Linked DNA regions of Homo sapiens. The protein of the gene in region 2 interacts with the protein of the main gene of each other region in a biochemical or structural test. Each region holds a gene or a part of one and is shown on either strand. Other genes may lie near its edges. The genes, in order: LRIG1, ERBB4 and LYN.

What was found.
Region 1: the proteins of ERBB4 (region 2) and LRIG1 form a complex in vitro, tested with the Homo sapiens proteins (one study listed by BioGRID).
Region 3: the proteins of ERBB4 (region 2) and LYN form a complex in vitro, tested with the Homo sapiens proteins (one large-scale study listed by BioGRID).

What each region holds. Positions count from the first base shown.
Region 1 is NC_000003.12:66,393,013-66,396,666, reverse strand, and holds part of LRIG1 (leucine-rich repeats and immunoglobulin-like domains protein 1 isoform 1 precursor), read left to right. Parts: intron 1-2,463; coding exon 2,464-2,627; intron 2,628-3,654. UniProt on the Homo sapiens protein: Acts as a feedback negative regulator of signaling by receptor tyrosine kinases, through a mechanism that involves enhancement of receptor ubiquitination and accelerated intracellular degradation.
Region 2 is NC_000002.12:211,384,248-211,387,901, reverse strand, and holds part of ERBB4 (receptor tyrosine-protein kinase erbB-4 isoform JM-a/CYT-1 precursor), read left to right. Parts: intron 1-751; coding exon 752-1,049; intron 1,050-3,654. UniProt on the Homo sapiens protein: Tyrosine-protein kinase that plays an essential role as cell surface receptor for neuregulins and EGF family members and regulates development of the heart, the central nervous system and the mammary gland, gene transcription, cell proliferation, differentiation, migration and apoptosis.
Region 3 is NC_000008.11:55,998,332-56,001,985, reverse strand, and holds part of LYN (tyrosine-protein kinase Lyn), read right to left. Parts: intron 3,641-3,654; coding exon 3,487-3,640; intron 2,569-3,486; coding exon 2,437-2,568; intron 1-2,436. UniProt on the Homo sapiens protein: Non-receptor tyrosine-protein kinase that transmits signals from cell surface receptors and plays an important role in the regulation of innate and adaptive immune responses, hematopoiesis, responses to growth factors and cytokines, integrin signaling, but also responses to DNA damage and genotoxic agents.

The DNA.
Region 1 (3,654 bases), on a different chromosome or scaffold from region 2:
AGGAACTGGACCCTTCCAGAAGCTTGGACCTCCAGCGTGCTTCTGCATGGTTCTGGAGGCTCAGCCTCGGTCTCCTGCCTGGGTTTCCCATCGTTGCTGCATATACCTCGCTGGAGCCGGCCCTGTGCCCAGTCCTCAGATGAGAGAAATGGTTAATTCCACTTGGTCGTCTTTTTCTCCATCAGATCAAGTCAGGTTGTACTGTGCACTTAGTCATCCTCTGGGTAAATTTCCACAAGTGATGATTAGAAACACACTTTGAGTTGGAATCGTGAAAATGCACCATGTGAGCCAGCAAAGCCCTGGGATGGCAGCAGAAGGCAGTAGAGCCGATGGCGCTGTGCTCTCCACGGGTGGAAGAAGGGCGGCAGGAGCCTGCAGAGCCTAGGGGTTGGAATCCTCGCTACTGCCTGGCCCCAGGCCCTCCCCATGTATCCTCTCAGTCCTAACTTGCTGTTTAGGAACATGCTGTCTCCACCCTGAGTACCCACTGTCTTCCTGGAGTCTGGCCTCCTGTCTGAGGTGGGTTTCATGGTGGAAGAAGTAGGAAATCCTCAAAGGCGTTAGCCCCACACGTCCAGGGCGTGTGTAGGATGAGGCTTAGCCCTTTCTACATGTGTCTGATCAAAGATAAATGTCAAATTTGTTTTCCCGTTTGTTCCTGTGGTTCAAATGGAATATGTCCTTGTGTCCTGCACAAATGCTTAACGTCGCACAGGGATGGCCCAGCCTTCTCTCCTAGGCTTTCGTGAACAGTGCCCAGGCTGTTCTGCCTGACTGCACGGAAGTGCCCTCTTGCTGGGGAGCTGGAGGTGCTTCTGACAGCGGAGAGTTCTCCATCCAGGCTGAGTTCCCCCCATGCCTGGCGCAGCCAGCCCTGACCCCCATGCAGGGTGCACTCCTGGGAGCTGCCCTCCCCAAACACTGCATGGGAATTGACCATTTCCTCAGGGATGGCCGTTACAGCCCTTCCGCCACCTGCAGTGACTCCACAGTAGGACAGCCCTCCAGATGGCTCTCAGCAGAACGCTACCTGCCCGTGAAATAAAAATGCAAACTCTCATGCTGATTTTAAGATCTAATATGGGCCAGCATCCCAGTTATAATGGCCTTGAGATAAGTTATTTCTGTTTTTGGAAAAGCACTTTCCAAAATTATAATTATTTTAATAAGATGCCCAACTCATCTAGGGGTGATGGGGAACATGAGGAAGAGTGGATTTTACTTAATTTAGCCTTGGGTCATCTGCTTACACTTCATTCTTCCTTGCTGTGACAGTTTCTCTGCTCATTAGAAATCTGGAGAGAAACAGAAGAAAATGGAAGGCCAGTCCATTTGGTTGCTTTGTTGATGTCTGAGGACAGTGGTGGGTGGAGAAGGCAGCCAAAGTCGTGCTCTTGGCCTGCATGATGTTTTTGGAATTTCTGCGCATACCTGTGCCTCCTGTTTGTCACCATGTACCAGAGACAGTGTATTGCAGGGAAGCCTGTGTGCTCTCTTTCCCAGTCTTCCCTTATCGTGGGCCAGCCATCATTCTTTAGCTCACAGCTCTGAGGTCTTCCAGGAACAAGGCAGCTAGACTCTTGGTTGACTTATCTTCAAGTGACTCCTCAGGAAGGAATGTCCGCTGAGATGGCGATTCCGATTTCTGTTTAAAAAGCTTATCCTTAGTTGCTGAGAAATGAAAAAGAAAATATTCTCTGTTTTGGTTGGAGCCCCACAAAGCTAAAGTTGTGCATTCTCATGCTCCCTGGGCAGTGGCAATTAACTAACAAGCACTATTTAGGGAGCAGAGCCGAATTCTGCCGGCCCCCTGAAGAATACTGGTGCAAAGATCAAGGCACAAACAAGAGGGTGGCACAGTGACGGGGCTTATTACATTTGGAAGTAAGAAAACATGCAGCTTTGCCAAATGGAAAAGGAACAGCCATGAGGCAAAAGAGCCCTCCTCGGAACTTGTTGCAGAATTTGGATCAAAGTCTCAGGCCGAGTTTGGAAGCTCCAAGTAGTTTATCAGGAAAGTGGGAAAAACCAGAGGGGGGATGGTGGCAGCATAGCACTGTTGGATGTATCAGAGGTCAGGAGAGGTCAGAAGGCAGCCCAGGGTCACACAGGAACAGTGTCTGTCCCAGAACATGGCATGGATAAGCTCCACGTTGCTGCTGCTCCAGTTGCGGTCCTTGGGTCAGCAGCCCCAGCATGATACGTGAACTTGTTAGCAGAGTCGTGGGTTCCACTCCTGACCCACCCAATCAGCAACTGCATTTTTTCAAAATCTCCAGGTGGGTTATATGCACTGCCCTGGGAAATTGGAGAGGAAGTGTGAGAAAAACCATTTCCCCCTTCCAGCTTGCTGATGTTCACTTGAGAAGCTGATTGGAGGCGACTGATCATTGTGTGTGTGAAGGGAGTGTCCCTCCTTTGCGGCTGCACCTGAAGCATCCACTGTTGTGTTTCTTTCAGCCATATCAGCAGCGACAGCTTCCTGTGTGACTGCCAGCTGAAGTGGCTGCCCCCGTGGCTAATTGGCAGGATGCTGCAGGCCTTTGTGACAGCCACCTGTGCCCACCCAGAATCACTGAAGGGTCAGAGCATTTTCTCTGTGCCACCAGAGAGTTTCGTGTGCGGTAAGACTGTCTTTGTAACTTTTTCTCTCCTTCATGAAGGACAAGGAAGCCAGGAGGTACTCTTCATTATGGGAGTAATTCCTGTGATCAGAGTAAACCCCAGCCCGTGGTTACAGATCAGCTGCTGGATGCAATTTATTTCTTGCTGAAACCACACACAGTATTTACCGTAGAGTTGCCTCATTATGTGGTTCTTGGAGGACATGCATTTAATCAGAAGGGAGTATAAGTTGGTTCAGTTACAAATCAGAATAATCAGTTACAGGAAGATAGTTCTGTTGTTTCAGAAGGGCTCTGGTGCCCGGGTTTAGCTGCGAATGTACTCCGCGTACGAGGCTGGCGTTTTAATGTGTGTTTCTTTCCGACCCCAAGAATGAAAGGTTAAATACAGGAAGAACAAGTCTCAGGAGAACAGTTGCTGTAGTAAAAATAATTCCTTGATGTTGACTTGTACTCTTGCTGTTTCTCCAAACCACTGAAATCTGCACTTGCAGCTTTACATTCTTTTTGCCTTCTGATTCCTGGAGCGTAGCTCTTGCCATCTTTTTGACTGGGAGTCGGGATCCAAGTTTGGTTGCAGAGAGCACAGAAAATGCTGAACAGCTGAAAACACACACGCAGGCTAGCTCAGACAGGACTGACACAGGCTCACGGTCAGGAAGACATGGTCAAAAAATGAGATGAATTTTGAGTTTTTCCTGTTTGCTTGCTCTAAGCAGGAGCAAGAGTGGGATTCCCAGGCCTGACTGGAACTGCTGGGCAGGTGTTAAGTCCCTCCTGCCTTTTGTGCTCACTGGTCTCCCTTGAGCCTTGAGATCCCTGCTGTGAGGATCCTAACCAGGAACTCACCCATCCATATGGCAACCCTTGTGGGCCACTTCTGTCTCCTACTTTCTGGCCATAGCAATAGCCATTGTGCCTGCTGGAGTAGCCAGTGTGCCTGCTGGAGGCAAGATGTGTGTGCCCTCTCCATGCATCCACCCCTACCTTCACCATCACCACTTTTGAGAACAGGCCTGCTGAACTT
Region 2 (3,654 bases):
CTTTGCTTACCATGTTTCCTCTCTCGTCTCTGCATAATTTCCTCATTTTGCCTTTGCCAACAGTGAGTTAAGAATTTGGTGTACATCGTGTAGCTGCCTTTGTAGATGTGTTTTTATCTCAGCTGATAATCCGAAATTGAGATATCATGCATCAACAGTAGCTTTCAATTTTTATCTGAAGGATTTACCTGGGCACATAAATTATGCTTCTGGATGTGGAGGTGATCTTTACTTCCCTGATTATTGGTCATGTACTAAAAAGTCAGAATTATAGTGATGATCCTCTAGTTAGGTACTAGAGCCTCAAATTCATAATAACCACAGAATTTTCGAAGGGAATAAAGACATAGGATTATTCAAAATATATCCATGTACTTCTATTCTTAATGACAACTGTCTATAATTAATGACACTTGCATTTATCATAAAAATTCACTTTGAAATTTGTATTAAATATAGGCACTTGTGGGAAAAGGGCATCAAATACATTTTATTAGAATATGTTTCAGTTGGTTAATAAAACTAGAATGTGTATTTCAAAATTATTTTCTGATGATTTATCTTTTAAGAAAAGTGGAAATTTTAGGTGTTTATAGTTTGTAACTCCATTAGCCACTAGGGGAAAAAAAACCAGTAAATACTATGACTATTCTCTGAAAGACTGGCTTTGATATCCTTGTGGCTATTAACATTCATTTTTAAACTATTTCTAACAACGCCTTCTCTCCACATATGTTTCTCTTATTAACAGAACCAGTTTGTATACCGAGATGGAGGTTTTGCTGCTGAACAAGGAGTGTCTGTGCCCTACAGAGCCCCAACTAGCACAATTCCAGAAGCTCCTGTGGCACAGGGTGCTACTGCTGAGATTTTTGATGACTCCTGCTGTAATGGCACCCTACGCAAGCCAGTGGCACCCCATGTCCAAGAGGACAGTAGCACCCAGAGGTACAGTGCTGACCCCACCGTGTTTGCCCCAGAACGGAGCCCACGAGGAGAGCTGGATGAGGAAGGTTACATGACTCCTATGCGAGACAAACCCAAACAAGGTATGAACTGATTATTCAGAAACGATCGCCATTCGAAGTTCACTTCCATCAAGATAAACAAAGTACAGAATAGAAATTGCCAGATAGCTGACCAGCACAACATTTGTGATCCAGTAAAGGCCTAGGCTACTGCTACTTGTAGTATGGTCCCTGAATCAGCAGCATCCACATTATTTATTATTATTTATATAAATCAGAATCTCAGGCAGGCCCCGTCTGAATAGGAATCTGGATTTTAACAAGATCCCCAGGCTATCTGCATACAGCAATCAGTCTTGAGAAGCACTATTCTAAACATATTTTGTTGAAATATTTGAATGAAGTAGCATACTACAAAGTGTCAGGACCATAGCTTTATTGGACTTAATTGCGGAGATCAGAAAGACTGGTATTGTTGGCAAAAGTGCCTGATGCTTTTGATGGCACTAATAAAAGATTTGTTTGACTCATTTAAATGATGACATTTAAACAACCTAGTTTATTATAGGAAAATATTATGTTCTTATATGACGTTTTTCAAAAATTAAAGGTTTGACCCTGTATATACTTACAAGCATACCACCAAGATTTGAAAATAATAATCTGTGGTTTTACAAAGCATAACAATAATTTTGTAAAGTTAGTAGTAGAAATGTTAAGCACCCAAATCAAATAATGCTTCAATTTTGCAACAAAACAGCCTTTCTTCTTCTATGCTAACAGTATCACAACAGAGAAGATAGATGATTGTTATTAAAAAATGATGATCATGTCTCTCGCAGTCTTTAGTGTCAACAGTAAACTACATTTTAAGACTCTGAGAAGGGCCTGGTATATGGTTATGTTCTCTCCTTTAAAGTAAAATTTAGAGATCTCTAATTGTAAATAACCTTTTAAAATATATCTGTCTAGATAAAATTTTTACATATCTAAAACTTCTATACATATAAAAATGTAATGAAGAGTTTGGATGCTCATAGTAGCCTAGTAATGACACAAATGTAGACGTTGTGAAGACTTGGCAGATTCACCCCAAAGAAGAATCTTTTCTGGGGAGATTTTCACTCCAACCGTAAAGTTATTGGACAGCTATATAAGTTTGCATGAGGACAATATATAAGTAGATTGCATTGAGGAAAGGTAAGGTGAAGAGAAAAGCAAGTCACCCTATAGAGTCACACTGTATTCTCAGATTTTATCTCTGAACACTAAGCTCCGTTTCTATAAAAGGTTGCTATAGTCTAACCTCGTACTCAGAGAGTACAGAATTTTAGTGTAGACATTCCTATTCTTTCAATTAAGAAGTTTAAGGAATCTGGTAAGAGAGACCAAATTCTGCATTCCTTATAAATGTTTTCATACACTTGTCAAATTAAAACTTGTTACTAAGCATAAAGTTCACCCAACTCCTGCAGGGGCAATAATAAAAAACAGTGCAGTAGAATAAGAAGATTATGCAAGAGGAGTTAGAAGACCTGAATTCTATCCCAACACTAATTGTATCCTGCACACATCATTTAATCTCATTTTTCTGTCTACAAAGCTGGAAAAATAAGTCTTGTACTTCTTTTTCACAGAATTGGGAGGATGAAATGATAGTGTCTTGTAAAGGCCTATATATGATAGTGGGATATTCATTACTGCCCTTTAAGTTGAATAAATGATGCTAAATACTTACCTATTCTGTATATATATATTTGGAGAAAAATAATCCTCACTTAATAGGATTTTTCTCTCTACTTATTGGGCTAAGGATAAAAGACAGAAAGTTTGTTTCAGAATGGCCTCTCAACAAAGAATTGTGCCCTCTTCATGCCTTGAATTCAAAATAGGAATAGCTTAGGGCTTTGTGTATATAGTAAAAGAGAGGACTGTCAGAGGACTTACAATACATGCGTGTTTATGTCTATGTGCAGTCTATATTATAGACATAGATGTGGAATTAAGCTTCAGGAGAATGGTGATAATTATTAGCACCTTTTAGGCCAATACCTATACTAGATGGATTTATTAGATTGATCCGTACAAAATAGGCACTAATTGACTGGTTTCAATATACAAAATTTATTTTATTTTATATAATTCAAGCTGATAGTTTGCTACTTTGTGATTATGATTGGTCAATGGAAATATTATAATTATACTTTACTATTAAGTAGAAGTATATGTAATGTCAAGCAGGTCAACTAGAGGCATGTTAGCTATCTGTTAGATTTGCTTTTTTAGTTGAATTTTTTTCCTTTGATGCTTTCTTTTCCATGTGTAAAACCTTTTTCAGAAGCATCTCCAATTAAATCCTTGTTACCAGTATAGGCAATCATAGCAAACCATAGAGACTAAAAAACATGATTTCTTCACTCCATCTATTCATCTTGGCATGGAACTCAGCTATAGATTCTTGTTTTTTCAATATCCTTTATAGAAGTTAAGTTGTCTGTATATTTAAAGACTATTTAATCCTAATAGGTAGTCTTATTTCCTAATATAAATAACTTTTAGAAAACAAAAACATTGAAACAACCAGCCCCATATGCAGAAGAGACAAATGCAATTAGAAAGAAAGAAAAATTTAGGAGATAGAAATTCTGATTCTGGCCTCGTTGGCTTCTTGTTTTATTATAAACAT
Region 3 (3,654 bases), on a different chromosome or scaffold from region 2:
AAAAATGATTTTTCACCCCAAATATTTCCAAATCCTGGGCATTGTGCACATTGGCTGAGGGGTCTTGGGAGGCACATGGATCTGGGGCTCAGAGCAGCTTTGCCACCAGCGAGGGGCCCAATCACCTTCTCCAAGCCTCAGGGGCCATGGTAGCACATCACATGCAGCACACCACGCATATCACAAAACATTCTTTTATGAGATTGTATGTTTATCAGGTGTCAGATTATATACATAATCTGACTATATAATCTTTCTCTACAGACAGATTATAGAAAGAGATGTAGGCATAGATGGAGATAGAGATATATAACATCAGACACTGGGGCTGATTAGAAATATTTTTCCTATTTTGCAGCAATGTTAATTCATTAATCTCAGTGTCTAGAGCAGCTGGAAGATGAAATGCTGGCACTAAAGGGATTTCCTGGGACAGCCGGTCCACTGTGCAGGCAGACACCACCCAAAGGCTTTCAGCTGCCAACTGGTCCCTGCCCCAGTTTCTCTGTGGCTCATCCCCACATGAAACAGTAGTGATGGGAGCACGCAGACTGTGTGGCTGCTCTGTCCAAAAGCCTTCCCTGGTTTGCATCTCAGCAGAGTAAGAGGGGCTGCTCTTACATGGCCAGTAAGTCTCTCCCTGAGCCACTCTAACCCCCAGCTACATAGCCTTCTTTCTCATCCATCGACTGTCTAGAGATCAAATGGCCTAGGTGCGTCATTCATTCATTCATTCATTCACCCATCCATCCATCAAATACTCACAGAGGCCCAAACCACGCTGGCCTCCTGCTCCTGTTGGCCAAGCCCATGCTCTGGCTGCTCTCCCCATGGGGACATGCAGACCTCAGAGAGCCCAAGACTCCCTCCCTCTGTGAGTCCCTGCTGCTGCCAGGACCATGGAATAAAACCAGCAGCTCCCCACCCCCTTCTGTGAGTACTCGCCAATCCCTAAGCCACTCCACGCAGGCTCCACACTACTCTCACCACCCTACAGGATGGCTGTGTGTTTGATAAACATCAGTCTCTCCCCACTACAATATTCACTCTCAAGGACATGGGCAGATACCATGGCATCCTAGCAGCTGAGAGTGCCTAGCATACTCAAATATTTTTTGAATAGGAGAAAGATTTAAACATTAAAAATTTAATTTTAAATTCCCCTCATGCAAATATTTTGTTAATAGTCAAACATAAATGAAAATATGAAGGCTCTGGGAGAAATCCCTCTTTTTTTTTTTTTTTTTTTTTTTTTTTTGAGACAGAGTCTCACTCTGTCGCCATGGCTAGAGTGCAGGGGTGCAGTCTCGGCTCACTGCAACCTGTGCTTCCCAGGTTGAAGTGATTCTCCTGCCTCAGCCTCCCAAGTAGGTGGGATTACAGATGCCCACCACTACGCCCAGCTAATTTTTTGTATTTTTAGTAATGACGGGGTTTCACCATGTTGGCCAGGCTGGTCTCGAACTCCTGACCTCGTGATTCACCCACCTCAGCCTCCCAAAGTGCTGGGATTACAGGTGTAAGCCACTGCACCTGGCCGAAATCCCTCTTCTTAACCATGCCAGCACAGACCATGGAAAAATGGAGGGATGGTCAGAATCTGGCTCTGCAGGCTTCAGGTGTTAGGAATCTGGAAATAAATACTGAATGATGCCCTCACTGATACCAGTATGTTAAAGAGCAGAAGGGCCTCCCACTGATAAACAAAGGTGGTTATTTCTTGAAGAGAGAGAGACTCCAGGGCACTTATTACAAAACCAAGCATCGGAAATCCTTGTCTCCATGTGGGTTTCCTCCTTCCAGTCAGGGGGACTGCCTTGGAGGAGCCCCTGTGTCTATCCATCCTCATCTCGACACCAACAACCATGCCCGGAACATTCTAGTATGTGGTGGAATTAATCAGTGCAGAACAAGAACACACACTCAAAATAAGGAGGCAAAGAAGTGTCTAAGCACTCTTAGAACAATTTATGCTAAAGATAGTGAAAATAAAAATCAAGTCTTTTTTTTGTTTCGAGATGGAGTCTCACTCTGTCGTGTAGGCTGGAGTGGAATGGCGCGATCTCAGCTCACTGCAACCTCCACCTCCCGGGTTCAAGCAATTCTCCTGTCTCAGCCTCCCGAGTAGCTGGGATTACAGGCATGCGTCACCATGCCTGGCTAATTTTGTAATTTTAGTAGAGACGGGGTTTCTCCATGTTGGTCAGTCTGGTCTCCAACTCCCGACCTCAGGTGATCCACCTGCCTCGGCCTCCCAAAGTGCTGGGATTACAGGCGTGAGCCACCATGCCCAGCCCGTGAAAATCAAGTTCTGGCTCAAAGCACTTATTCTTTGCTATCGGGTAGATGAAGTAATTATTACTTTTTAATGCCTTCATGCAACCTGACTTTTTCTCATTTATACAGCTTGATTGTAAATAGCTAAGTAAACCATACCTGGGTAGGGAATTTTCCCATAGGTGACAATTTCGTATAGGAGGATTCCAAAGGACCACACATCAGACTTAATAGTGAAACATCCAAAGTTGATTGCTTCTGGAGCCGTCCACTTAATAGGGAACTTAGCACCTAAGGAAGAAGATATGTGGTTCTTACTTGGGTATTTAAACTTAAACAAAAAAGTCATGAACATGTGACCCCATACTTTCTTTTCTTTTCTTTTTTTGAGGCGGAGTTTCACTCTTGTCACCCAGGCTGGAATGTAATGATGCGATCTCGGCTCACTGCAACCTTCACCTCCCAGGTTCAAAATAATAAAATAATAATAATCCTTGTTCAACAATGCTTAGGAATTTCAAGAAAGTGCTTGTCTCTTCCAGAAGACAGTGAGCACTGCAAAAATATTTGCTCAGCTCTCGTGGGTGAGAGCATAAGAATCCTCAGTCATAACCACGTGGGCAATCCTAGCCCAAGAAAGGCCCTGCAGTCCCGACCATGCTTGGCCCCCTGACAATGTGCCACAGGCTGGGGAACTTAGGCCTCTCTGTGCATTTTTGGTTCATATATATAATACAGAATGTGGGAAAATAAAGAAGTAGATTTTTTGCATTATATTTAGTTCTGTGTGTATGGTAATGTTCATGTTTTAATTTGTAATTAAAAGGCTGGAATAAACAATATAGAATTAATGTTACAAATATTTTCTCCACAGCCCCGTATATTATATTCATTGTTTGAGTGAAAACTTTAACAATACAAAATAAACAAGAATCATCTTGCTGAATCTATTTGTGTTTTGCATTGCTTAATTGAAATACAACTGATAGCATTTGTAAGCCTAACAAAAGTATCATGTGGAGTTAATCAAGAGAGTACCTTCTAGAAACTATTAGAATAGAACCATAAGCAGACAATTATGGTACAGCTTAAATGTTGTACCAAATAAGTTTTTCTTAATGGTGACTATTGTAATTGCTTTGTCAAAAACAGACAAAAACAAAATAAAACACAATAATAAAACATCTAAAGATCATTAGTGCAACATACCTTCCCTTGCTGTGTACTCATTATCTTCAATTACTCTAGCAAGGCCAAAATCTGCAATTTTGCACATGAGTGACTCGGAGACCAGAACATTAGCTGCTCGCAGGTCCCGGTGAATGTAGTTCTTCCGCTCGATGTATGCCATTCCCTCTGCAATCTGAAAACAGAAAT